7 linked regions of the Homo sapiens genome follow. The protein of the gene in region 3 interacts with the protein of the main gene of each other region in a pairwise test. Each region holds a gene or a part of one and is shown on either strand. Other genes may lie near its edges.

The links.
Region 1: the proteins of BATF3 (region 3) and GPATCH2L interact in binary tests that used the Homo sapiens proteins (3 or more experiments, as listed by UniProt).
Region 2: the proteins of BATF3 (region 3) and RHOXF2 interact in binary tests that used the Homo sapiens proteins (3 or more experiments, as listed by UniProt).
Region 4: the proteins of BATF3 (region 3) and STAT3 interact in a two-hybrid assay, tested with the Homo sapiens proteins (one large-scale study listed by BioGRID and IntAct).
Region 5: the proteins of BATF3 (region 3) and EPAS1 come close enough for resonance energy transfer, tested with the Homo sapiens proteins (one large-scale study listed by BioGRID).
Region 6: the proteins of BATF3 (region 3) and BACH2 interact in binary tests that used the Homo sapiens proteins (3 or more experiments, as listed by UniProt).
Region 7: the proteins of BATF3 (region 3) and ATF2 interact in binary tests that used the Homo sapiens proteins (3 or more experiments, as listed by UniProt).

The regions. Positions count from the first base shown.
Region 1 is NC_000014.9:76,175,922-76,179,421, reverse strand, and holds part of GPATCH2L (G patch domain-containing protein 2-like), read right to left. Parts: intron 2,800-3,500; coding exon 2,732-2,799; intron 1,531-2,731; coding exon of another isoform or gene 1,435-1,530; coding exon 1,380-1,434; coding exon of another isoform or gene 1,278-1,379; exon of another isoform or gene 1-1,277.
Region 2 is NC_000023.11:120,157,390-120,161,412, reverse strand, and holds the start of RHOXF2 (rhox homeobox family member 2), read right to left. Parts: upstream 2,801-4,023; 5' UTR 2,663-2,800; coding exon 2,584-2,662; intron 2,399-2,583; coding exon 1,987-2,398; intron 1,056-1,986; coding exon 1,010-1,055; intron 1-1,009. UniProt on the Homo sapiens protein: Transcription factor maybe involved in reproductive processes. Modulates expression of target genes encoding proteins involved in processes relevant to spermatogenesis.
Region 3 is NC_000001.11:212,689,841-212,693,340, forward strand, and holds part of BATF3 (basic leucine zipper transcriptional factor ATF-like 3), read right to left. Parts: intron 2,528-3,500; exon of another isoform or gene 2,424-2,527; intron 1-2,423. UniProt on the Homo sapiens protein: AP-1 family transcription factor that controls the differentiation of CD8(+) thymic conventional dendritic cells in the immune system.
Region 4 is NC_000017.11:42,325,943-42,329,442, forward strand, and holds part of STAT3 (signal transducer and activator of transcription 3), read right to left. Parts: coding exon 3,468-3,500; intron 258-3,467; coding exon 174-257; intron 1-173. UniProt on the Homo sapiens protein: Signal transducer and transcription activator that mediates cellular responses to interleukins, KITLG/SCF, LEP and other growth factors. Once activated, recruits coactivators, such as NCOA1 or MED1, to the promoter region of the target gene.
Region 5 is NC_000002.12:46,377,407-46,380,906, reverse strand, and holds part of EPAS1 (endothelial PAS domain-containing protein 1), read right to left. Parts: intron 3,014-3,500; coding exon 2,820-3,013; intron 2,251-2,819; coding exon 2,140-2,250; intron 681-2,139; coding exon 190-680; intron 1-189.
Region 6 is NC_000006.12:89,926,028-89,929,843, forward strand, and holds the end of BACH2 (transcription regulator protein BACH2), read right to left. Parts: 3' UTR 501-3,816; downstream 1-500. UniProt on the Homo sapiens protein: Transcriptional regulator that acts as a repressor or activator. Binds to Maf recognition elements (MARE). Plays an important role in coordinating transcription activation and repression by MAFK.
Region 7 is NC_000002.12:175,158,204-175,161,703, forward strand, and holds part of ATF2 (cyclic AMP-dependent transcription factor ATF-2), read right to left. Parts: intron 1-3,500. UniProt on the Homo sapiens protein: Transcriptional activator which regulates the transcription of various genes, including those involved in anti-apoptosis, cell growth, and DNA damage response.

The sequences.
Region 1 (3,500 bases), on a different chromosome or scaffold from region 3:
CTGCAGTCTCTCACATACCACCTTCATGACTTTCCTTATCTGCCTACAACCTGTACTACTGTTTACTTATTATTTTTCCTCATATCAATTATTTTTGCTCAGCTTTGTCCTTACTATATTTCCGTGAAATAACAGGCTTGATACCATAATTACATCTTTTCCAATGTACACTATAATACATAACTTAAAAATTGGGCATCTATATGCCATCTAAAATCATCTCATACATATACACCAGTTATGTCTTCTACCACTCTAGTTCATTTTGAAACAGCAAATTCATAATGAAGATTCCAAGTCTAAAATGTGGATCGTGTATATCAACTCAGTAAGCTACTAAGTTGTTAAAAAAAAAAAACAAAAAAACCCACAACAAACAGGAAGCCTACAACTTTTCACCTGTCAGTGTTCATCTATTTTACAACTAATCACCAAGATAATGCAATCCTCCAAAAAAATCACAAAGCTTCACACATAAAGAAACATATCGATAACCACTGTGAGTTAATTTTTAAATTGTGAGCCCTCCACATGGGCCTAAATATGCCAAGGGGCCCCTCAGGGGGTAGCCAGGGAAAAGACTAAGAAGGAGAGGCTCTAAGGCAGGGGTCCCCAACCCCGGGGCCGCACAGCAGGAGGTGAGCTGTCAGCAAGCAGCTGCTCCCCATCGTGGGCATTACCGCCTGAGCTCTACCTCCTGTCAGATCAACAGCCACATTAGATTCTTATAGGAGTGCAAACCCTACTGTGAACCGAGCATGAGAGGGACCTAGGTTGTGCACACCTTATGAAAGCCTAATGCCTGATGATCTGTCATTGTTTCCCATCACCCCCAGGTGGGACTGTGTAGTTGCAGGAGCACAAGCTACATTATGACCAGTTGTATAATTATTTCATTATATATTACAATGTAATAACAACAGAAATAAAGTACACAATAAATGTAATGCATTTGAATCATCCCAAAACCACCCCCCTCACCACGCCCCCAACCCGGGTCCATGGAAAAACTGTCTTCTACAAAAATGGTTCCTGGTGACATAAGGTTGGGGACCACTGCTCTAAGGCTTTGACCCCACTTCACCCAAAGCAGCTCTACCTTCTGCTCCATACGTTTAGGCTTCAACATAGTACTTCTCAACGCAGGATTCTGATGTTGAACTAAACCATATGCAAATCAGATTCATTCTGCTTTCTTACTGCAAAGTTCAAAACTAAAATAAAAACAGGATTCCTATGAAATATATGCTACAAGAAACTAATGATCACAGTTGAACCTACAAAGAGGAATTAGCTGCAGTTTTTACCAGTAAGTGTTGGATACTCTTAGAAAACGGTTCTCCAAGAAAATCAAAATAACAAGAAAGAGGAAACCTTACCTCATGTGCACAAGCAGAAATGTGAGGAAAATCAGAAGCCAACGCTTTATTCTTTCTAAAGAAAAGGAAACCAAATGATAAAATAAAGATGACAAAGAAAAATGATCTTACCTGATTTCGTTCTCTTTTCCCAGCTGATGGTAACCAGAAACTAAAGAGAGGGAGAGAATAACAGGAAAGAAAACAATAAAAGAAGTGATAGGAAAATTACAGAAGGGAGAAGAAGATAAGATGTTGGAATAATTAAGTAAAGACAAAGAAGGGAATAGAGAAAAGATGTAATCAGAGGAGGAGAAAGAGATTAAATGTATGTGAATGTTTTGCAAAAACAAAAACAAAAAAAAACCTCTTCAAAGGAAAAAGGCTTGTAATGGAATGTAAAAGACTGAACAACAGAAATAAACCCAAGATTACACTGTGACACCAATGATCTCTCAGCTGTGCAGTGACAAGAGTCTCAACTCATGAAGGGCATAAACCACACCCACATCTTTATTTTCTATGTAAAATTAGCCCGAGTTGGATGTGTATAGGATCATAACTGGGTACTGACCATGATGCATACAAGATATATGAAAGAACCAACCATTTTAGGGGACAAGGCTGTCACAAGAATTGGCAGAATTATTTTCCTGTAGCTACATACAGGCTTCCTACAGCACTCACCACAGTAATTAGAACAAAAAGATATTTCACAGGTTGGGCGCAGCGGCTCACACCTGTAATCCCAACACTTTAGGAGGCCAAGGTGTGCAAATCGCTTGAGCCCAGGAGTTCAAGACCAGCCTGAACAACATGGCTAAACTCTGTCTCTACAAAAAATACAAAAATTAGACAGGCGCAGCAGCATGCGCCTGTAGTCCCAACTACTCAAGAGGCCAAAGTGGGAGGATTGCTTGAGCCTAGGAGGCAGAGGTTGCAGTGAGCCATGACTCTGCCACTGCACTCCAGCCTGGGCGTCAGAGCCAGACCCTGTCTCAAAAAAACAGATATTTCCCTATGAAAAGGTCTAAAAATGGGAAGAGAATATAGGAGGATAGAGGCAATCATCCATTTTGGAAAAAAAAAAATTTAGGGACAGAAAAATTAGTTTAAAATAAACATCTTTACTGGAGGCTACTAATGCAGCATCTGTAGGTATAAAAAAACAATACAGTGAAACTAGTCTAGAAAGGAAAAGAAAATCACTGCCACAGGTTTAGGATGTTGCCATATTTAACTGTTACAACGTACAAATCTTTAAGATCTCTTTGAACTCTGAAGCCTGATTTCTAAGTTGCTCCATAAAACTCCCCTCTGCCTCCTCCTCCAAGGAGCAGACTAGCACAGCCAGTAAATACATAAGCACTTACTCTTTCTGCCGAGGGTCACTAATGATATGGCTTATCCTCTCAGTCCCCAAAGTGTTTATGCTGGTCTCCTAAAAAGAAAAGGCAGACAAGAGTATCATCCAACCACAGAAACAAACATATAAAGTACAATATCAATCTTTCCCATAACTGTGCCAGCTAAGGCAACCTCAAAAGGCACATGTTAAAAGTCAATCTTAAAATAAAACAGCAACTATACTTCTTTTTATTGGAATCCATCTTAAAAGTATTACATGTTACCCTACATTTATTATTCTCCAGTGATCCAAAAGTCTTTATAAATACATCATAGACACTGTTCACCATATATGGTATTTTAATAAGTACTATACCTCCTGTAACTACTGAAGTATATAGGAGTAAAAATCCTTTTTTAGAAAATTCAACAGTAGCCAATTTTTAACAGGCCAACACACCAAGCTTCCTAGAGAGCTACGTGATTTGATTATAGTTCCAACAGCCTTCATCCTGGGACATTACCAAATCCTCACTGGTAAAATGTAAATATCTGCTGACTAAATATAAATACATCAAGAGAATTTTGTGACTTGCAAAAATTGTTACTCTGTACTTTGTCCCTCAAACATCATCTCATGAAATAAAAATAGAAATTTGTATAAAATTGATTCCTAAATTCAGGGTTCTCAAGATTATAGTGTAAAAGCTTACCCATAACACCACAAAGAGTTCAGAAACGAACCATTTCCAAAAAATTGGAAAACGGCAATTCACTCTTCATTTAACTTGAGTA
Region 2 (4,023 bases), on a different chromosome or scaffold from region 3:
AAACAAAAAATCTCTTAAATGCTAGAAATTGATCAAGAAAATATTCACTGATGCATTTGGTAGCTTCAAAAGTTGAATGGGGGCAGCTTCCCCAAGCCATGAGTGTGACTGTATACAATTCTTGCCTAACACTTCCATCCTTAGGTTGGTGGAAATTTATGAAAAATTGATCTTGTAGTTTGTTTTGGTTTCTAGATAAACTTGCAAAGGTTGCAAGCCTTTTCGCTATCTCTACCATAATGCAAAACCAACTATGTCAGCAATGTTTTCAGCCTGCCATATCAAAGTATTCCAGAAAATTAAAATTTAGAGCTGCCACTCTCTACAAGGCTTCACCAAATACTTAAAAACAATAGTAGGAGGGCCAGGCGCTTGAACTTTATGCTATCCCCCGCCATCAGTCTCAGCTTAAGGAAACATACGTTCTGGTTGGGAATTATTCCTTTACCCCAATGCCTAAACATTTATAAATTCTTAACCAAAGAGTTTATGCTTGGTTTTAAATATATTAAATAGTTTAGTTTAATGGAGCTCTTTGGAGCATTAGTTCGAATAATCCCCATGTCAGAAAACCCCAGGATGCCTCCACATGGAAGTGCTACCTAAAGGATACCAGTGCTAGGAATTCAATCTTATATATTATGCTATATTTAATTTATACTGTTATATATTATATATATTTGTAATTTGGAATACATATATTTATATATTTGTAATTTATTCAAGTGTATAATATATTTTATACACAAGGAATAAAGGAAACAGTTCAGTACTCATTTTTTTTTCCGTGGATTGTCATGTTCCCTCTGGTAATGGGAAATTTCCACAAGCTGAGCTTTCCTTACTGCATTTTCCAGCCACAAAGATCCCAAAGTTCAGACCTCATTGCCTATACATGAAAAAGGCCACAAAAACACCAAGATGGCAATGTCTGGGTCAAAGTGTGTCCAAGCCCTGAAGCGGGTTTTAGAATGGCTCCCCTGCCCGATTGCTTTTTCGGTTTACTGACCTGCACTGCGAGTTCAGTCACATTCATGCTTCTTGCCAGCCTCCTTCTATGGAAGAAACCACACGTGTTCAGCATTTGGAGTTGTGGGTGTCGTTTCATTCTTGTGTTTAATTTTTTTATTCTACCAACTCCCCACACCCAGTAGGCTGTTCTGTAACACCCAGCTGAGCCTCACATTAGGAACATTTCTCTCATGCCACAAATAAAGGAGATGCCAAAAAAAAAAAAATCAGGGCGGTGGCTCACGCCTGTAATGCCAGCACTTTGGGAGGCCGAGGCAGGAGGATCACTTGAGGTCAGGAGTTCGAGACCAGCCTGGCCAATATGGTGAAACCCCGTCTCTACTAAAAATTCAATAATTAGCCGGGCGTGGTGGCTGGCGCCTGTAATCCCAGCTACTTGGGACGCTGAGGTAGGATAATCTCTTGAACCTGGGAGGCAGAGGTTGCAGTGAGCCGAGATCGCACCATTGCACTCCAGCCTGGGTGTCCCAGCGAGACTCCTTCTCCAAAAAATAAAAAAATAACCCCCCCATAACAAAAAAAATCGTTAATCAATATAAATGACATTCTAACTTACTATTTGAAACTTAGAAAAATTAACACCAAAGGAAACCCAGACGAACGACGGACTTCTCAGAATTTTAAATAAGGTCAGAATGCGACCCTGCACTTGCTGTACAGAACCTTAATCTCCTCATCTTTATTTCTGCCTCGCCTGGGATAGGAGTTATTTATCATAACTGACCTCAGCCCAAAGTTGCCCAACTTGGTTCATTTAAATTCTGCATGATGCCTAATAGGCATAGCCCCACTACAGAACCCACTAGGTGCCAGGGGTCTGCGGGGAGGGGACGGCAGCAACACCAGGCCCCAGATGGGTTTTGGTTCAGGAGGGGAGAGGGTAGGAGAGGGACTGCGGGAAAGCCAAACGCCGCCTCCCTGCAAACCGCGCGCCAACCAGAGCAATGGGCTTACCGCAGGAACTCACTGGGGAACTGCTCGCGTTGGAAAATGCGCTCCAGCTCCTGCAGCTGCAATGGGGTGAAGGCGTGGACGTTGGGCTGCTGCGCGTTGCCAGGCTCCAGCCCCCCGACGGCGCCCTGTGGGCGCGAATACTGCTGCCCAGGTTCCTTCTCGCTCTGGTCGCTGTCCTCAACGTTGCCATCGCTGCCGCTGGTGCCCTCGAGGTCTCCTTCCCATAGGTGGCCAGGAACTCCGGCGCCGCCGCCATCTTTTTCTTCTCCGCCGCCATCTTTTTCTTCTCCGCCTTGGGCTCCTGCCGACTTTAACTTTTCTCCTGCTGCTGTGCCTTGCTCAGGCTCAGGCTGTGCATCCTCTTCCTCCTCTTTGACCTCTTCAGTAAGCGACAGCACCATAGCATTCATATCTGGAAAAGTAGAAACCCCAAGAGAAAGATCAAGGCATTGGTCCTGAGGGTGTTGGAAGGAGGTGGTGAGGGGCTACACTCTGAGAGCAGTGGTAGTGCAGGGGTATCATCCAGTCTACTCGCCTCTCCCAGAGAACCTTGGTTTCCTGAGTTCGCAAAAGCATGTGTCCCATCAAGGTACTGACCCTGTAGTTCTTTCTCGTCGTCGACTGCAGGGCTGAGCAAGCTGGTCATATACTGGCTACACTGGTCCGGAGGCTCCATACCCTGAGTGGTGTGGATGGAGCTGTGCACTTCTGCAGATTCTGAGCTGGGGCCACCACGCTCTCCTAGGCAGTGCTAGAACTGTGAGTCGCCGCCTGCAACGTTCTTCTGGTGTCTAGACTCAGCAACAGTGTATCCACTTAGAGACCTCCTCTCTTGCTTTTCTGCTTCCCGCTATTTGCTGTGGGTTGGGCCTGCTGAGGTGCGCATGCGTCAGGGGCTTGGCCTTGCCCGGATGAGGGAGAGCACGCGTTGGTGGTGTGGGGGGGGAGGGGTAAGTGGTGTAGTAGGGTGTGGGGGAGGGGGGAGTAGGGCGTGGGAGGGGGAGTAGGATGGGGTGCGTGCTTGCATGCGTTGTCCTGTAGACAGGCATGCGTGAGTGTGGAACTTGGGGGAAGCTGCTGTGCTGAATTGTGCAAGCCCATTTTATGGCGATAAGGGAGATTTTGCACTAGCCCCATGCTTCCTAGGTCTCCAGGAGCAGGAGCTTGGGCCTGGATTTGCAAAGCTTGTGGGCTGCGCAAATGCACTATGTAAAAATGCAGCACACTCCTTGAGAAAGTCCACTATTAATTCTTAGTAATGAATCCACATCAAAGTGCAAGGGTGGAAACATGCACAATGATGCTTAGAGCATCCGAGATTGCTTTTCTTTTCTTTCTTTCTTTCTTTTTTTTTTTTTTTTTTTTTTTTTGAGACAGTCTCGCTCTGTCTCTGGAATGCAGTGGCACTATCTGGGCTCACTACAACCTCCATCTTCTGGGTACCTAGATTCAGTAACAGTGTATCCACTTAGAGACCTCCTCTCTTGCCTTTCCTCTTCCCACTATTTGCTGTGGGTTGGGCCTGCTGAGGTGCGCATGCCTCAGGGGCTTGGCCTTGCCTTGGGCACGGGAGAGCACGTGTTGGAGTGGGGGCAGTAGGACGGGGTGGGGGGAGTAGGGCGGGGGAGGGAGTAGGGCGGGGGGGCGTAGGGTGGAGGGGGGGAGTAGGGCGGGGGGGCCGGGGAGTAGGATGGGGTGGGTGTTTGCATGTATTGTGCAGGTACTCAGGAGTGCCTCAGCCTCCCGAGTACCTGGAACTACAGGTGCGCACCAGCACACCTGGGTAATTATTGTATTTTTAGTAGAGACAGGGTTTCACCATGTTTGCTGGGCTGGTCTGGAACTGCTGGCCCCAAGTGATCCACCCACCTCGGCCTCCCAAAGTGCCGGGATTACAGGCGTGAGCCACCGTTCCCAGCTGCAGCCAAGATTTCTAAAATTGCAGGGCATCCTTCCTTTGCCTTTGGTTGTGACTGTGGATAGCGCAGCTTCTGCTATGTCTCTGGCTACAGACCCATTACAAATGCGCACTTACCT
Region 3 (3,500 bases):
ACACAACCACAGACACACACACAGATACACACAGTCACACACACATCTGCAAACACACTCTCATACCCAGCCACAGACACTCTCACACACATACACAATCAACACACAGTCACACAAACACTCTCACAGTCACACACATACAGTCATACACACATACATACACCTCACACAGTCACACACACTCACAAAAACTCAGACTCACATGCAGACTCCCCACATTCACATTCACATACACACTCACACACACACACTCCACCCTGCAGCAGGAAATGCCCTTGACTTTCAAGTAAAATGGAGAGTACATTTGAATAGTTCCAATGTGCTAACATTTTAAGTAGATTCCAAAGGACAAGAAGCCCTCTTCCTTTGGTAGAATATTCCAAGCTGCCTTTCTACATATACTGAATTCCGCAGCAAGACGCTCTGAGCTTCCCAGTTTTGTCTCTGGAAGCCGTGCGCAGCCCTGTGGCCTGAGGCTTCCCTGAGGTCCACTGCCCTCCCCCAACCCATGCTTAGAGTCTTCAGAGCCGCCCGACAGGTGCCCCACGGGCCCCTCATCTGCCTTCTCCATAAGGACTTTCTCTTCTAGGATTTAAGCATTACTCATAAACCCGCTGAGGGACTTTTATTGAGCTGAGGGAATAACAAGAAGAGAAGAAGTCAAAATCTTTAGGTGAGACGAGCCCTTTGAAAATAACAAGAGGAGCTGGGAGGGAAGAAAGAAGAGGCCAGAGAACACTGAATAGCAGCAAAGGGGGAAGAAATGAAACCCACCTCACACCCAGAAGAAATTCCTGGAGTAAACGCAAACAAAAAGCAAGCAAAGAACATTAAACCCTTCATTATTTCCAAAAATATGACCCCTCTAGCTCGAATTCTGCCAAGTTCCAAATCCTTTGCCATGGGAGGGTTTGAGGTTGCTGTGCTCCCTCTCTGGGTATTTGTCGGGACAGTTTCAAAGCAGACACCTAAAAATTAGAGGTGGTGAAATCACTGTGGATCCCAGCTCTGCCTCAGAAATTAAGCTGCCTAAGGCAGTGGATCTCAAGTAGGGCAATTGTGGCAGTCTGCAGGGGACACTGGCAGTGTATGGAGACAGTTTGGGTTATCGCAGCTGGTCGGGGGTGCTACTACATCATGTGGCTAGAGGCCAGGGATGCTGCTCAACATCCAGCAGCACACAAGACAGGCCCCCAACAACAAGGAATTATGCTGCCCCATGCATAAACAGTGTTGAGGCTGAGAAACCCTGTTCTGGGCATCTAGGAGCAGGTGACTGGGATCAACGGGCTGCCTAGGGATACGCAGGGTCCAGGATGCCTCTGAGGCTGAAGACAGGATCAAGGACTGGTAAAGAAGTGGGTACCAGGGACCAGATATGACAACTAAGGTGAGAAAGAAAGAAGTAGGAACAGGCTAACAGGAGGCCATAGCCACACACAGACCCCATTTCACAAGTTAGAAAACTGAAGCTCTGAGAGGTACAGTGACTTTTCCAAGGTCACATAGACCTGGGATCTGACTCCTAACTTCAAGGTCAACTGCAACTCTCTTGTAGCATCAACAATTCTGCTTTTAGTTAGCAGTGCCTGGGTCCAGATTTCCCCATGATGGTTACCAGAAGTAAGAGGCCATAAGATCTCAGGACTTCAGAATAAGTCTACTCCCAAGCCTTCACTGATGCACTTCCCAGCAGAAAAATTGTGTTACCAGCAAGGGCTGTACAAATGAGTGCCACAATCAGTTTCTAAGCCACATGGGTGCTGCCATGAAGCTCTCAGAACATGCAATATCTGAAAAAACCATGGCAACACATACCACAATCACATTGCCCAAGTCATTTGTCAGTTTGTGACATTTGGGGCTCCTGAGGATGGCACTGCTGCTTTCCTTTTGTGACTCAAAATTCTTTCTCAGTCTTACACCTTTGGGGTGCCTGGTCGAGCCAGTCTGACCCACTTCTGAGCCACCTTTCAGCCTGGGTGAGATGAGACGAGACCCTGACTGTTCACTTTGGTTCTCATTTGTCAGTGTGGACTTTGGCACACGCCTAGTGTTCAGAGATGAATGCAGGTCGAAATCCCCACGGGAGGTGTGAGCGGGTTGAAGGGATGATTTGAAAGCCCACAGTGGACTCTGAGGTCTACAGACACACGTTAAGAACTGCTTCTCATCACCGTAGTCCAACTGCCAGCAACCACTGCCCAGAAAACTCTGCGTGAAGGGGAACCCCAGCCCCTGCCTCTCTGGCTTGGCCTGTGCAGCCTCTTCCCCCATTCTCCCCTCCACAGAGGGCTCGCCTTGACGGACACTCCTAGGACTTTGGAGATGGAGAACAAGGAGGGGAGGGAGGTGGCCGAAAAACTCCTAAGAGCTGCAGCTGGGGCAAGTTTCTCAGGGTGTTGGAGGCAACAGAGGCTCAAGTACTCACTTCAGCAGCACATACATTAAAATTGGAATGATACAGGGATTAACATGGCCCCTGAGCAAGGATAATATGCAAATTCATAAAGTGTTCCATATTTTTTTAAAAACCCAGGAAGACGAAAGAGCAAAAAAAACCCAAAAAAACCAGAGGCTCAAGTATAGGTAGAGTATGTGAGTGAGGTGAGGAGAGAAAAGTGGAAACTCTTGTTGCCCAGGCTGGAGTGCAGTGGCGTGATCTCGGCTCACTGCAACCTCCACCTCCCAGGTTCAAGCAATTCTCCTGCCTCAGCCTCCCGAGTAGTTGGAACTACAGGCGCACGCCACCACACCTGGCTAATTTTTGTATTTTTAGTGGAGATGGGGTTTCGCCATGTTGGCCAGGCTGGTCTTGAACTCCTGGCCTCAAGTGATCCACCCGCCTCAGCCTCCCAAAGTGCTGGGATTACAGGCACGAGCCACTGTGCCTGACCAAAAAGTGGAAACTTTAAACAAGTTTGCTCCAAATATCCCCCCTCAGGATATGCAAGAAATGCAAGTAAAGAGCTTGAGTTACTTTGAGATATTCAGGAATGCAATCCCTGCAGTGTGGGATAGAGGAACACATGAAGAAAGCCCTTTGATGCGCTACAGTCTCCAGGGAGCAGCAGGCAGTGGCTGTCAGTGGCTGTTTTCTGGGCCCTCTGGTGTCTCCCAATGAGCTGGCCTCACTCCAGATTTGAGGAGGAGGTTCCTATGCATGGTGTCCCCACCCTAGATTGGCCTGGGAGGTCCAGGGGTCCCAAGGGGCTTTCTGTCATGGCCCGCAGTAGTGTGCAAGGCGCTCTGTGCTCAACTCACTGGAGCTTGACAAAAGGGTTCTTTACACCATTTTTAAACCAGATACCTTGCCTCCAATAGTAGATTTAGTCATCCAATGATACACACAGCTACAATGCCCTCCTGGAAGGAACAGGGAAGGGATTACTCACGTGGTGAGTAATGATTTGGTTCAGAGATGATGTTCCTTTGGTTCTGCAGAAGGTTTGGGATATACTTCCATTTTCCTAAGCCAGTCGTCTGCTTCCTCACCCGCT
Region 4 (3,500 bases), on a different chromosome or scaffold from region 3:
CTTTATTGCCAGATGGGATGCCAAGGATTTTTTTGGAGAAAAGTAAGCAAAAATAAACACAGTGTTAAGCAAACAGTAATCATTCCACCTTCTCTTGTAAAAATCCCAGTGGAAGTTTTTGTCCTGAGTCACCCCTGTACGTAGCCTCTCACCGATTCTGCTGCAGAACTTACCTCTAGGTCAATCTTGAGGCCTTGGTGATACACCTCGGTCTCAAAGGTGATCAGGTGCAGCTCCTCAGTCACAATCAGGGAAGCCTACAGTAACGAGAAGGACACTCTTAGGCCAGGTGTGGTGGCTCATGCCTGTAATCCCAGCACTTTGGGAGGCCAAGGCAGGAGGATTGCCTGAGCCCAGGAGTTCGAGACCAGTCTAAGCAGCACAGCAAAACTCCATCTCTGCAAAAAATACAAAAATTAGCTGGGTGTGGTGGTGCACACCTATAGCCCCAGCTACTCGAGAGGCTGAGGTGGGAGGATGGCTTGAGCCTAGGAGATGGAGGCTGCAGCGAGCTATGATTGTGCCACTGCACTCTAGCTGGGGTGACAGAGTGAGACCCTGTCTTAAAAAAAAATTAAATTAAATAAAAAAAAAGGCTGAGCGTGATGGCTCACACCTACAATCCCAGCATTTTGGGAGGCCGAGGCAGGTGGATCACATGGTCAGGAGTTCGAGACCAGCCTGGCCAATAATTTGGTGAAACCCCGTTTCTACTAAGAATACAAAAATTAGCTGGGTGTGGTAGTGGGCGCCTGTAGTCCCAGCTACTCAGGAGGCTGAGGCAGGAGAATCGCTTGAACCCAGGAGGCAGAGGATGCAGTGAGCCGAGATCACGCCACTGCACTCCAGCCTGGGTGACAGAGTGAGACTCTGTCTCAATCAATCAGTCAATCAATAAAAAAGAGAAGGACACTTTTCCTCAGAGAGAATGGCATTCAGTACTAACAGCCACAGCCAAGGAAAGTGACATGCCAAGCCTCACCACACCAAGAAGGGTAAGCCACCAGGTGGTCACAAACAAACTGCCAGGGACACAACTTGCTCGGCACTTACTCTCTTCAACACCAAGAACTTCCAATGCTGTGATCCTCAACCTAATCCTTTACTCAGTTTGTATTATAATATTACATAGATCCAATTGGTTATTTGTAAAATACGTAAGGCACAAAGAATAACAAAACAATATGAACCCACCATTCAATTTAAGGAAAAGTCCATCACTCCTAAAATTCTCTGGGTGCCCTTCCCCAACCCCATCCCCTTCCCTCCTCCCTCAGAAATAACTGCTATTTTGTCTTTTGGGTTTATCATTTCCTAGCCCTTTTTGTCTTGTTTTGTTTTGTTTTTTTACAGTTTTACCATATTTGTTTATCTAAGCAATGCAGGTATTGTTTAGTTTGGGACATTTGTGAACCTTACACTTATGGACTCCAATGAATTCTTTTGGGATTCACTTTTCACTTGATGTGAAATGAATCCACATGGTTATGTGTATCTGCAGTGTATTCCTTTTCACAGCTGCGGAGTATTCCATTGTGTCTATACCACAAATAATGTATTCATTCTAATGTTGATGGGTATTTATTTGGGTTGCATTTAGAGCTTATAATCAGGCTGATGTCCACTTTATATATGTCTCCTGGGACATATATGCAAAGATTTCTCTGCTATTAAATCCTGGGAATGGCACCGTTGGTTTACAGGTATGTTCATTTTTATACTGCCAAATTGTTTTCCAAACTGACTACAACAATGTCTCACATCAGTACAGCAACCTTATTTTAAGTAAGAGTTGTCAATGAATTCTCAAAAATTGAATTCTAGTCTGGGCACAGCGGCTCATGCCTGTAATCCCAGCACTTTCGGAGGCCGAGATGGGTGGATCACGAGGTCAGGAGTTCAAGACCAGCCTGACCAATATGGTGAAACCCTGTCTCTACTAAAAATGCAAAAATTAGCCAGGCGTGGTGGCATGCACCTATCGTCCCAGCTACTTGGGAGGCTGAGACAGGAGAATCGCTTGAACCTAGGAGGCAGAGGTTGCAGTGAGCTGAGATCGCACCACTGCAATCCGATAGAACGAGACTCCGACTCAAAAAAAAAAAAGAAAAAAGAAATTAAATTATAATTCATTTTTAATACTATTTTTCTGATTATAAAAGTAATATATTCAGTTTAAAATGCAAATATCACAGAGACAGTCTAGAATAGCCATGGATACCAACAGCAGCACTAATACACATAGCACTGCTGGTATATTCCTCCAGAATTTCTTAATATACATATGAATACACATAAGAGTATAGTGTATTTTTAAAACACATATACTAATAATACTATTCAAATTATTTTACATTTTGCTTTTTCTTAATATGTCATGTACATTTTCCCATATCATTGCATACAGGCTACTTCACTCTACTGTCAAGTAAAATTCCACATTTTTAAAAAGGACTGCTACATTTTATTTTATTTATTTTTTTGAGACAGAGTTTCACTCTGTTGCCCAGGCTAGAGTGCAGTGGCAAAATCTTGGCTCACTGCAAGCTCCACCTCTCAGGTTCAAGCGATTCTCATGCCTCAGCCTCCCCAGTAACTGGGACTACAGGCGTGCACCACCACACCCAGCTAATTTTTGTATCTTTAGTAGAGACGGGCTTTCACCATGTTGGCCAGGCTGGTCTTGAACTCCTGACCTCAAGTGACCAGCCTGCCTTGGCATCCCAAAGTACGGGGTGTGAGCCAGCACGCCCAGCTAGGACTGCTACATTTTAAAGAGGAAGAATTGTTCAGGGGACAAATGTAAGAAAAAGAACGGGGCATCACAATTTTTAAAAATGACTGAAAACTAGCCTTCCGTCACATTTACCTTTTTTTGTTTGTTTGTTTAAAGTTTATTCTTGACAATAAGAATCCAATAATCTGAATCAATGAAAAGCAGAAAATAAGGGGGATAAAGAACAAGATGGGTTTTTGTTTGTTCATTTTATTTTATGTACTCTTTTCCTAAGCAAGCTAATGCAAGGTGGTCATTTATTTTAAAGTTTAACTCAAATCTGTTGCTTTTACACCCTCTATCCCACCTCAGTGGGAGAGAAAAACAGGGCACTAAAAATGGAGCCAAGCAGGGTCAGCCGCAGGAGCTGGATGGGGAATTTGGAAAGCCCCAGGCAAGGTGGAAAGCTGCTTTATACCACATGGGTGTGGAGAACAACTCAGCAAGGGACTTTCCACTTCTCCTTAAGGAGGAGCCAACTCCCAGATATTCACGGAAATGTTCCAAGCCAGAGAGCTCCATGGCACATGGAACTTCTGTTCATGTCACTTTGGCCTGAAGTGACTTTTTGGAATAACTACAGCTGAAAGAACAGGTTGATGTTTCTAATTCTGGGGATTAAGAAGGATCTTTACCCCTCTCTCCCTCAAGGAAAACACCCCAGTTGTCTTTCATCCCCAACAAAACTTACATCACAATTGGCTCGGCCCCCATTCCCACATCT
Region 5 (3,500 bases), on a different chromosome or scaffold from region 3:
AAAAACCCATCCTACACTAGGCCTCACATGGCTTGAGGTGATTCCCCAAAGTCTGAGCTCAGAGAAGGGCTAAATGGGGTATCAGATGGCTGGGGAGAGGGGCAGGGGCCTCCCTGGGGGTCCAGCTATCTTACTAGTGGGTGCCTCTCGGTTCGGCCCTGCTGGTACAGCTGAGTATCTGCCACTTACCTTGTCTTGAAGGTGGAGACATGGGGTGGAGAGACAGGGGGCCCCAACGGCGCTGCTCCCAAGAACTCTGTGCGCTGATCCCCGACGGCCCACTTTGTGGGCCCAAAATGTAATGGTGGATCTGGGGGCCACTGGGTATTGGATCTGCCCCCCATGGAAGAGAGAGGGGTGCTGGCCTGGCCACAGCACGGTGGCAGGGATGCTTTGCTTCCGGCATCAAAGAAGATGGAGGACATGGGCCGGTGCTCGGGCTCTGTCTTCTTGCTCTCCAGCTGCTGCTGAAACTTGTCCAGGAGGAAGGGACTGTGCGGGGCTACAGGGGCCAGTGGCTGGAAGATGTTTGTCATGGCACTGAAGCAGTGCTGGGGGGTGGACTGTGGGTTCTCCGCCAAGAGCCGCTCCTCGGGGCAGATGGGGCTTAGCTGGAAGTCTTCCCCGTCCATGGGGATATAGGGTGCCAGTGTCTCCAAGTCCAGCTCATTGAAATCCGTCTGAGGGGAGACAGCACCGGCAAAGAGGCAAGGGGGTTGGTACGACCTCACAAACACTATTCCAACTCAGCTCCTGCAGAGCCATTCATCTCAAGCACTGTTTCACAGTGCTGCTCAAACGCCTCCACTGGCTCCCGAGGGCCTATCAGGAAAACCTCAGACTTGGCTGTGTCATGTACACGACCTTGTATCATGTACCAGCCTTCCCCCATGTTTATCCCCTCTTCACCCTGCACATTGAGAAATGTTCTCCTCTCCCCATCCCACCTGTCCGGAGCCCGCCTTCTCTCTTGAAGCCGAGGCAGCCCCTCTTCCACAGAGTCAGCCCTGCCTACTCCAGCCTGTGGTGGTTATCCTTGTCCTACAATGCTTAGGCCTGTGGTGCACACTGTGGCTTTTTTTTGTCCTCTTCTCCCTCCTGTAAGCTGGCACGGGCCTAAGCAAGCAGTAAGTGCCCAGGTCCATCTGTGGACTCTCGCAGAGTAACAGCCTAACAGCCAGACCCCAGGGACAGAGACTTTGGTTCCAATCAGCAGATACTCAGATCATCCCTTAGGGTGGCAGTATCATGACGGACGCATGATACAAGCAGGGGAATACAAGCAGATGCGGAAAACAGTTTCTAACTTCAGAGACTGACACCCTCAGTGGGTGTCAGCTGACTAATGACTGCAATACTAAGCAATCTTTAAGGAGCAGAAGCAGATAGCTGTGATTAAGTGCCACATGATATATACTACAGGAGTGCTGAGGAGGGAGGGTGATAGAAAAGCTAAAATTGGGCATGTTTTGCAGAGTAGCTGGGATTTGTGCCAAGTAGGATCAAGAAACAAACTAAGTGGCAAGGCAGAAATCTGGTTGAACTCAAGACTAAGACAAATGGGGGATTAATGGTTTTCCCTGGGGTTTTGTAAAACACGTACCCCTCCCTCTACCTTATCCTTGTTTACATAGTTTTTGCAAGAACATTGGCCTTATGTAATAAATGTGTTCCTGAAAAGTTTTATGTAAATGAAAAATTGTCAAACAGATGTTATTTATTTTAAAGTGCATTTCATATAAAAATGATTATTTTTTTAAAATCACAAGATGAATGTGTTTATAAAGGGATTAATTGTCCCCTATGTTTATACATGTTTTATACATCTGGCTATGCTTGTTAAATGTAGGGCCTGTTTAAAGAAAGGTGCAGTGGTATCATTTCGGTTTTCATGTGTGCTAAGAAAGCTATCTAAGTAGGAGACACATATGCTGGAAGAGCTGGATTTGACAGTGGGAGGAGGGGGTGACCACAGGCTCCATTACCCTGTACCCCTACCTCTTTAGGGGACCTGGGCCTTGGCCAAACGTCTCCACTGCTCTTTACAACAAAGGGATGAGGCTACAAGAATGGATGTGAGCCTTTGCTGTCCACCAGACAGCAGGCACACACCCTAGCCTGATCTCCACAGCCATCTACCTGGGTACTGCATTGGTCCTTGGCCTCTGTGTCCATGGCGAAGAGCTTCTCAATCACTTCAATCTTCAGGTCGTTATCCAAAGATGTGTAATAGTCTTCAGGGCTATTGGGCTAGGGGCCAGGAAGGAGGGGGACAGAGTCAAAGATATGGCACTGGTCTCCCCAGAAGTCCAGCATGGAAGAAGAAATACCTTCCTGGACCCAAAGGTTCAATTCCATTCCACCACACAACTATTTGTAGAGGGGCTGCTAATTAACAAGCTGTATGAATTAGGTCAATTCATCAACCTCTCTAAATTCCAGTCTCCTCATCATAAAATGAGGCTACTGTCGCTTCACAGGTTGTCCTGTCTTGAGGACCAAACAGGATACAGGCTGTGGCCAGCAGGGCTGTGCAAACTGTGCAGCTCTGTGCCACATACGGGATGTTACTGCCCTGTATGGGGACTGAGCTGGGGGCTCAAAGCCCTTCAAGGAGCTTATTTCAATGGAGTTGGGGGATGAACACTAAAAGGAAGAAAACAGCTCTGATACCTGGTAGGTAAGTGTCACGGCCACTCTAGGGGGCTCTGTGATAACCTGAGAAGGACAGTACCTGTCCCAAATGTCCCTTCAGCCATCTGGCAGCAGTCATACATACGGAGCCCTCTCTGTGTCCTCGCCATAAGAGGGCTGCTCACCGTGGAGCAGCTGCTGCTGCTGCTGGTGGCACTGGGGGTGGTGCTGCCCGGGGCAGCTGCCTGGGGCACGGTGAAGGCAGGCAGGCTCCCAGCCTCGCTCTGGGTGCTGTGGCTCCTCAACTCCGTGGCCCATGGCTGGCTCGGGGGCAGGATGGCCTTGCCATAGGCTGAGGACTCCTCGAAGTTCTGATTCCCTGTGGAGACAAGGGCCTGGGAGGTGAACACCCACAACCATCGGGCTCACCCCAAGGCAGAGGAGGCCCAAAAACCGCAGAGAAGGCCCTAAGAGGGTCTGGAAGGCATGCCTGGGGCTAGGCCCCCCCAACACCCTGGGGCTCAGCTGGAACACATGGGTCTTTGACTCTGGCTATGAGTCAACGTAGAGACTCCCTTTAAACGGAACAGTCTCCTGGGACATTTAATTTTCAGAGACTAAATATATTAGGAGCCACTCTTCCCTGAGGAACAGATCCGGAAGGGTAGACAAGGAAGGTATGAGAGGGAGAGGAGAATTGGGCTATTGAGCTATTTGCCTCAGTACTGCCACAAAACAAGCCGCGAGACCTACTGGCCAAGGGCCCGCTGCGTTTCAGATTCTCTTTAGCTGCAATCCTCACGTGGCCGCTGTAGAACCCATCTAAAAGGGGCTGACACAGTCCAGGGTGAGCACCACTCTTCCGG
Region 6 (3,816 bases), on a different chromosome or scaffold from region 3:
AGGATGCATTTCTCACAACGTACCCCCTTCACTAACCAATGCATGACTGTATGGATTCCTCAACCACAATTCTAAACATCTTTCCTTGCAACTCACTGCATCTTGGTGTTGGCTTAATGTTCTTTCTCATTTACTTTCATTTAGTTTTTAAAAAATTCAGCCTATTTTGGATATAATTGCAGATTCACATGCAGTTGCAAGAAATGATACCCATCACCCAGTTTTCTCCCGTGGTAACATTCTGCATAGCGATAGCACAATATCAAAACCGAGAAATTGGGTTTAAAGCCTTTTATCTACTCTCACAGGCACTAGGGATTTTTAAAATTCAGAGTTTAGGAATCACATTAATATTATCCAATTTTAAAGATTCCTAATCAGATTAATCAGGTAGCAAGTAAGGGTCCAAACTAGAGGAAGAGAAATGGCCTCTAGGAAAAAAGATTTCCTGAGGTTTCTCACTCTGTAATTTGGAACATAGGGATCAGAGGCAGAGAAAATCAGTTTACAATGCATAATGATATGTCTTTATTTCATCAACAGAAATGGTGTCTAGACAAAATTCAGTTAACACTAGCAATTCAATTGAGTGAAAACTTTTTTTGCACAATAGTGTATTTACAATGAGTAAATGAAGTTTCAATTCATTAGTTCATAGCAATGCTTTTTTCCCCCAAAAGGTAAAAATTCTTAGTTACAGAGAATAAGCATCAACAGCCTTTCATTTTTTACAATAAAAACCACGAGAAAAACCACAATCACTTAGAAAAAAATAAGGACAAGCCTAAGAACTAGTACAATAAAATGATGCATTGAATTAAATTACATTAATCGCATAGAATCTGTGTAAAAAGTATGTAGAAAAACACCTGATGTAACCTGTTACAGTCGTTGACCAGTTATGAGAGGTACAGAGGGTTATACAGGTAGATATGTGTGAAAACTGTCCGTATTGTTCAACCTGGGGAGGAAGAGAAGAGGGGCTGCAGCCCCTTGCATACACTGAGAAGACCCTGTTTTGAATATGGCCTCTGGAGTTTGTAAGGCATATATTAGAGGTGCACTTGCATCAGACTGGTTCTGGAACAAATTGTCAAATTGTCACAGGCTCTCTTGGCCTCACTAGCAAAGGTGGTGCTTGCCTTGAATGGCTCACTGTGTCTAACAAGCACCTGAAGCTCCCAAATGCATATGGAATCTTCCTGATCACTCACTAGAGGTGCCATGTCTTTATGTCAGAGCGTGAAACGGGCATCCCAGGATTTGCACACACAAAATACATTGTTAGGACTTAAGGGGAGGTCATAGTTCTGCCTCCAAACATGTTTTGGTAGAAGACTGAGCATCCATCTGTAGGAAAACCCCTCTTTGTCCAAGTCCCTTCACTCTTTCGCAACATATGCGTCTGATTATTCCCATGGGAGCACTTGGCACTGAATGTGAGTCTACCTGAAATGAATGGTCTTGGTGCACACTTCTGCTTCTAAGAAGGGCCAGTGTTTTATCTGAGGTCAATAAACTGGAATGAGAATGAAAGTCAGAGCTGTTTATCCATTGCTTGACAGCAAAATGCATACACCGTGTCACAACATTAAATCAAAGCTATGAAAGTTGGCCTCTGCAACCAAGTGGGTATTCTTCACAAAATGGCAGCATCGTTTTCATATTACATTTAAAATGCACTGATATTCATTTGATAGAAATATCATCTCCCAGGGTGGAGTGTAGGAAAATACTATAAACTTTTCTTTGCAAGTAATGTTTTTGCACCGTCAGTTGAATAATTTATGCTCAATCTGCCACAATGAGACTTTTCTATGTACAAATGCTATTTGCACACACTATTTGTGTACAGATATGTTCTGTTCTACAGCATCGGTTTTGGACGCTGGGGTCATGAGATGGCTCAGGCAGTACTATAAACATACACTTTCAACACACAATGCCTCGTGCACACAGATTTCCTGTATGAATACCAACTCCACACAGGGCATTGTATTGTGGACTGACTCACCAGAAATTGCACTTCCAACACAGTCTTCAGTTTGGGGAAGAAACACTAACTCATGATACAACGAACAGCTTTATTCTTAGAAAACAAAAACAAAAACAAAAAACACCTTGTTCTTTAGTCTATTTACAGTCATTTGAGGACCAAACTTGATTCTTGCTCCTTCTGGATCTGAGACTCCTCCTAAACTGTAAGCAATAGTGAAGCAGTTTGAAGTCATTTCTAAGACAGCTCCTAGTTTAAATGGGGCATAATGTAGAGAAGTAGGTAGCCAAATAGGGACTTGAGAAAGCTTTGCAGGCAGCTCTTCCTCATTTTGAGAGGATTATGCTACTCCACAGGATGTCAAGCAGCTTCACGGGACAGGAGTTTTTGGTGTCTTAACAGGCTTATCATTTTCAAACCTTTGTCTGTTCCTTCTTTTTCTTCTTCTTTGATGGCAATCATAAAATATTAAAAGAGAAAATGTGGGTTTAGGCCTCTTGACAACAGCATTAAACTTCACACTGTGCACACTTCACTTTAGCCAGTCCTCTCATGAGTCTTGTCGCTGGTCCTGGCTCCTTTTGAAGGAGTAGTGGCAGTTGGCATACTAATCACTAGACTTTTGTTCCCTTCCTTGGAAAAGCAATGTAAGGATTACATCCCGAATTATAGTGCATCTTAAAAGCAGCAAACCTTTAGAAAGACAGTTAATAAATTACTCGCACAACATTCAGTTGCAGACACACAGAGTCAGGTTTTCCACTGCAGCATCATCTCTGATGCCTGAGTCATTGCTGGGAACTCAGAAGATAAATAGCAGGATGGCCTCGTAACTTTGTCGGTTTTTTTTTTTTTAAAGTTTTTCTAACTGTTTTGTTCCAGAATCAGTATGTAATAAAGTTCGATTTTAATCAAGGCACCCCCAGGTAACGCAGAGAAACAAACACATACAGCAAATCACTCACCTGTCCAAAGCCTGACCAACTTGAAAAGAGGTTGCCTGGATACACAAGCAGGACAAAGGCAGATCCAAGGGGAGGACTGGATTTAGGTGGGATGTTCATTAGTCTCAGGGTCACTCACCTCCACTGGCTCTGCCCCAACAACCATTCCTACCCCAGCCATTTGGAGACCCAAGCAGGCATCCTCCTAAACAGCCCGTGGTTGGAGGGTCTCTTATTTTTGTAAGAAAAGAGCCTTAAGAACAACCAAATGTTACTGTACTGTGCAAACACTCTTCCTTGCTGTTCACTCACTTTTCTTTTTCCTAAAAGGCGTGGGGTTGACAGAGGGATCCCAGGGAAAAGAGACAGGCTAGGTTTTAAAATTCCACTTGAGGCCGTTTGGATTCTGGTCCCCAGCAAGTCCTCCCTTTGAATCAACCCAGAAATAATTTTGACAAGCACATAGTTCTGAATAGGAAAAGACACACACACATCACATGAACAACTGCACGAAGCTAGTCACTGTTCATGGTGGATTATGAATGAAATAACTTGTGAGAAATCTCTATGAAATTGGAAGATGGTTTTTAGAGCAGTGTTTTTAACCAGTTCCCATGGCAGAAGTTAGGTTGGGGGAAGAGGAAGAAAAGCAAGGCAGGGGTGGGTGGGAGGAAGGTGAGGTCTGAGTTAGGGTGGAGAGAAATAAAGAGGCCCCGCCCCTGCTAGAAATGGCTGCCAAACAGGTCTGGGCTACTGAACCACAGAAACCTGAGGAAATGGATGGAATGTGGTCAAGACTACCAGTTGCACATGAGTTGTTACCAGGGTAAACCTCATGCCAAGAAGCTGGGTTGGACCTGGTTATGATATGAGCAG
Region 7 (3,500 bases), on a different chromosome or scaffold from region 3:
CTCTCAAGACTAAAGTATTTTGAATTCAGGATTTTTTTTTTTTTTTTTTTTGAGACAGGGTCTTGCTCTGTAAGTACAGTGGCCCAACCATGGCTCACTGCAACCTGGATCTCCTGGGCTCAAGTGATCCTCCCACCTCAACCTCCTCAGTAGGCGGAACCACAGGTACACATGCCACCACACCCAGCTAAATTTTTTTTGGAGTGACCGGTCTCACGATGTTGCCCAGGCTGGTCTTGAATTCCTTGAGCTCAAACTCTTATTTTAAATTATCCAGGGATAATTTTAAAATGGATAACTTAAAATGGATATTTTAAATGGATAATTTAAAATAAGAGTGCCTTAAAGCTTCCTGATCCTACGGCAAGAAGCAAACGTCTGGGGGGAACACTGGAAACTGAGGTCATCTCTACAGGAACCCAAGTGGATATTTTAAATGGATAATTTAAAATAAGAGTGACTTAAAGCCTCCATTAATCAAGGCAATGATCCTCCTGTATTAGCCTCCCAAAGTGCTGGGATTGTAGGTGTGAGCCACTGCCCCTGGCCAGGAAAATTTTAAATTGTATGATTACACTATGATCCTCTACAGTAAAAAAAAAAATACATTTCAGGGCTATCAAAATATATAAAAGTAACATATGTAAAATACACAGAATAGTGCATGACACTAAAATAGTATTTATTAAGTTCATAAATTTTACTGCATTTTACTTTGACTTTAAATGTACATTTTTCTAATGCCTAATAAATACCTAATCTTACTATCTTCTTTATTTTTAAGGCCAGAAACTGAACTACATACTCAGTTTGACTTTTAGATAAGAGTTTTGGCCAGGCATGATAGCTCAACCCTGTAATCCCAGCACTTTGGGAGGCCAAGGTAGGCAGACTGCTTGAGGTCAGGAGTTCAAGACCAGCCTGGTCATCATGGAGAAACCCCGTCTCTACTAAAAATACAAAAAAATCAGCGGGGCGTGGTGGCGGAGACTATAGTTCCAGCTGCTCAAAAGGCTGAGGCATGAGAACTGCTTGAGCCTGGGAGGTGGAGGGTTCAGTGAGCTGAGAACCTACCACTGTACTCCAGCCTGCGCGACAGAGCAAGACTCCGTCTCAAAAAAAAAAAAAAGTTTTATATTAATCTTTAACCCATGATTCTGATGCTATCTGTAAGTTTATTTGATATATAATGTTTAGTTCATCAATTTAGGTAACTCAAATTCATCAGCTGAGAGAAAAATATTAAGCCCAATGTTAACAAGGAAAGCAGCAGTATTTTTTCCCCCACTCACAGCAGACATGAGAGAGGTCCTTCACACAATTCCCAAGAGTATACTAAAATTTTGATGAAATTTCTCAAAGTTGATGGTACACGTAAAAAGTATCACAAACTTCTCCAGACTGTATTATGAGTATGTGAAGAGTGAAATCAGTTCAATATCTCAAAAATATTCAATTAAAATATCAGTAGTCCAATTTTTAAATTAAATATTTTTTAAGTGAGTCTTGATTATTCCTAGGCAATGTAAAGAAAGCAAGTAGTTTTATAGTTTAAAATTATAATAGAATAACAAATACATAAATACAAAAAATTTACAGAGTAATAATTATGAATATAAACAACAGTAGCACAAGTTGTGCTAATAACATCACCTTAGATTTGGTAACAGAATTATGTGGTCTAAGGTCCATAGCATTATTTTTGCCCAAGGTAGGTGATAAAATACCTTTCATTGCTTTTTTTCTCCTGAGAAACTTATTTTTTGTAAAAGCAAAAAGAAAATAGAAATAGAAATTCAGTTCTCCAAGAATTACAGTAATTCATAGTCATCACCATTATGAAAAATACATCAATAAAAATTTCTCATTATGAAGAGGGCACAAATAAAATACACTACCGGCTTGGTGTGGTGGCTCACGCCTGTAACCCCAGCGCTTTGTGAAGCTGAGATGGGAGGATTACTTGAGGCCAAGAATTCAAGACCAACCTGGGTAACATAGTGAGACTCCATCTCTACAAAAAATTAAAAAATTAGCTGGGTATAGTAGCACATGCCTGTAGTCCCAGCTACTCGGGAGGCTGAGGTGGGAGGATTGCTGAAGCCCAGGTGTTTGAGGCAGCAGTGAACTACGACTGCACCACCACACTCCAGCCTGGGTGATAGAGACCCTGTCTCTAAAAATGAAATAAAGTAAGACTATGGATTATGTACTATGCCCATTAAAACAATGATAAGCTCACCTCTTTCTTCCGTTTTCAAAGTATGTCAAAATTCAAGTAAGTAAAGTGTATTACTACAAAAAATATCCCTCGACCCAACATCCATATATCAACAATCATTAAAACCTACCTTACAAATGATAAAATATTTCACTGATTCTCAACTTTGTGGCCAAAAATTGATAGTGTAGTTATAATTGTATAATTAGCAGAGACTTCAAAACAACTTTAGAACTGTGGTATTTTAATCATAATCTCAATCCCACTATGGGGAAGGAGAAATGAAAGGTTTCCCTAGAATGTTTATAATAGGATTGGTGGAGTAGAAGAAAAGAATAGTTGGGGTGGGGAGCAGCCTGTAATCCCAGCACTTTGTGATACTGAGGTGGGAGGATCGCTTGAGCCTGGGAGTTTGAGACCAGCCTGGGCAACGGCAAGACCCCATCTCTACAAAAATTTAAAAACTAGCTGAGTGTGGTGGCATGTGAGTGTGGTCCCAGCTATTTGGGAGGCTTAGGTGGGAAGATCTCTCGAGCCCCAGAGGTGGAAGCCGCAGTGAGACTTAGTCGCATCACTGCACTCCAACCTGCATGACAGAGTAAGACTTTGTCTCAAAAATACAAAGATAATTGGATTTTATGAAAATCACAGTATCATAATTTTATCATCTTAAAATAAGGATATGCTATACTGAAGGAATTTGATACAGAAAATGTCTGAGAAGGGGTACATATGGAACAAAAAAATATGAGACATTCTCTCAAATGAATTTACGAAAATTCTAAGGTGGCATGTTCCTCCACAAATTATAAATTCTTAGGGAAAAATAACTTTGTTGCCAAAGCTACCAAGTAGATGGTTGCTGTACTGCTTTCAAGCTACAGCACAAGCATGCCTGGAGGGCTAGGCTAGATTATTTCTGAATGAACTTCAATAATAATTCCCACAACACAAACTGAGTACTCATTAAGTTCTTGACACTGTATTAAGTATTGTATATATATCACATGAATGCTCACAGCAAGACTATGAGTTAAATTATTCTCCTTAAAGAGAAGGAAACTGAGGCAGAGAGGTTATATAATTTACTCAAGATAACACAGTAAGTGGTAGACCCCTGATAATCTGGCTTCTAATAACTATCCTAAAATATTGATTACACACTTAACTATGTGCCAGGGACAAAACTCAGTCAATTTGGCTATCATATACTCATATACACTTTCTTTATTCCAAGTGTTTCCTACATGGAAATGAATTTGTCATTATAAATCTTAAT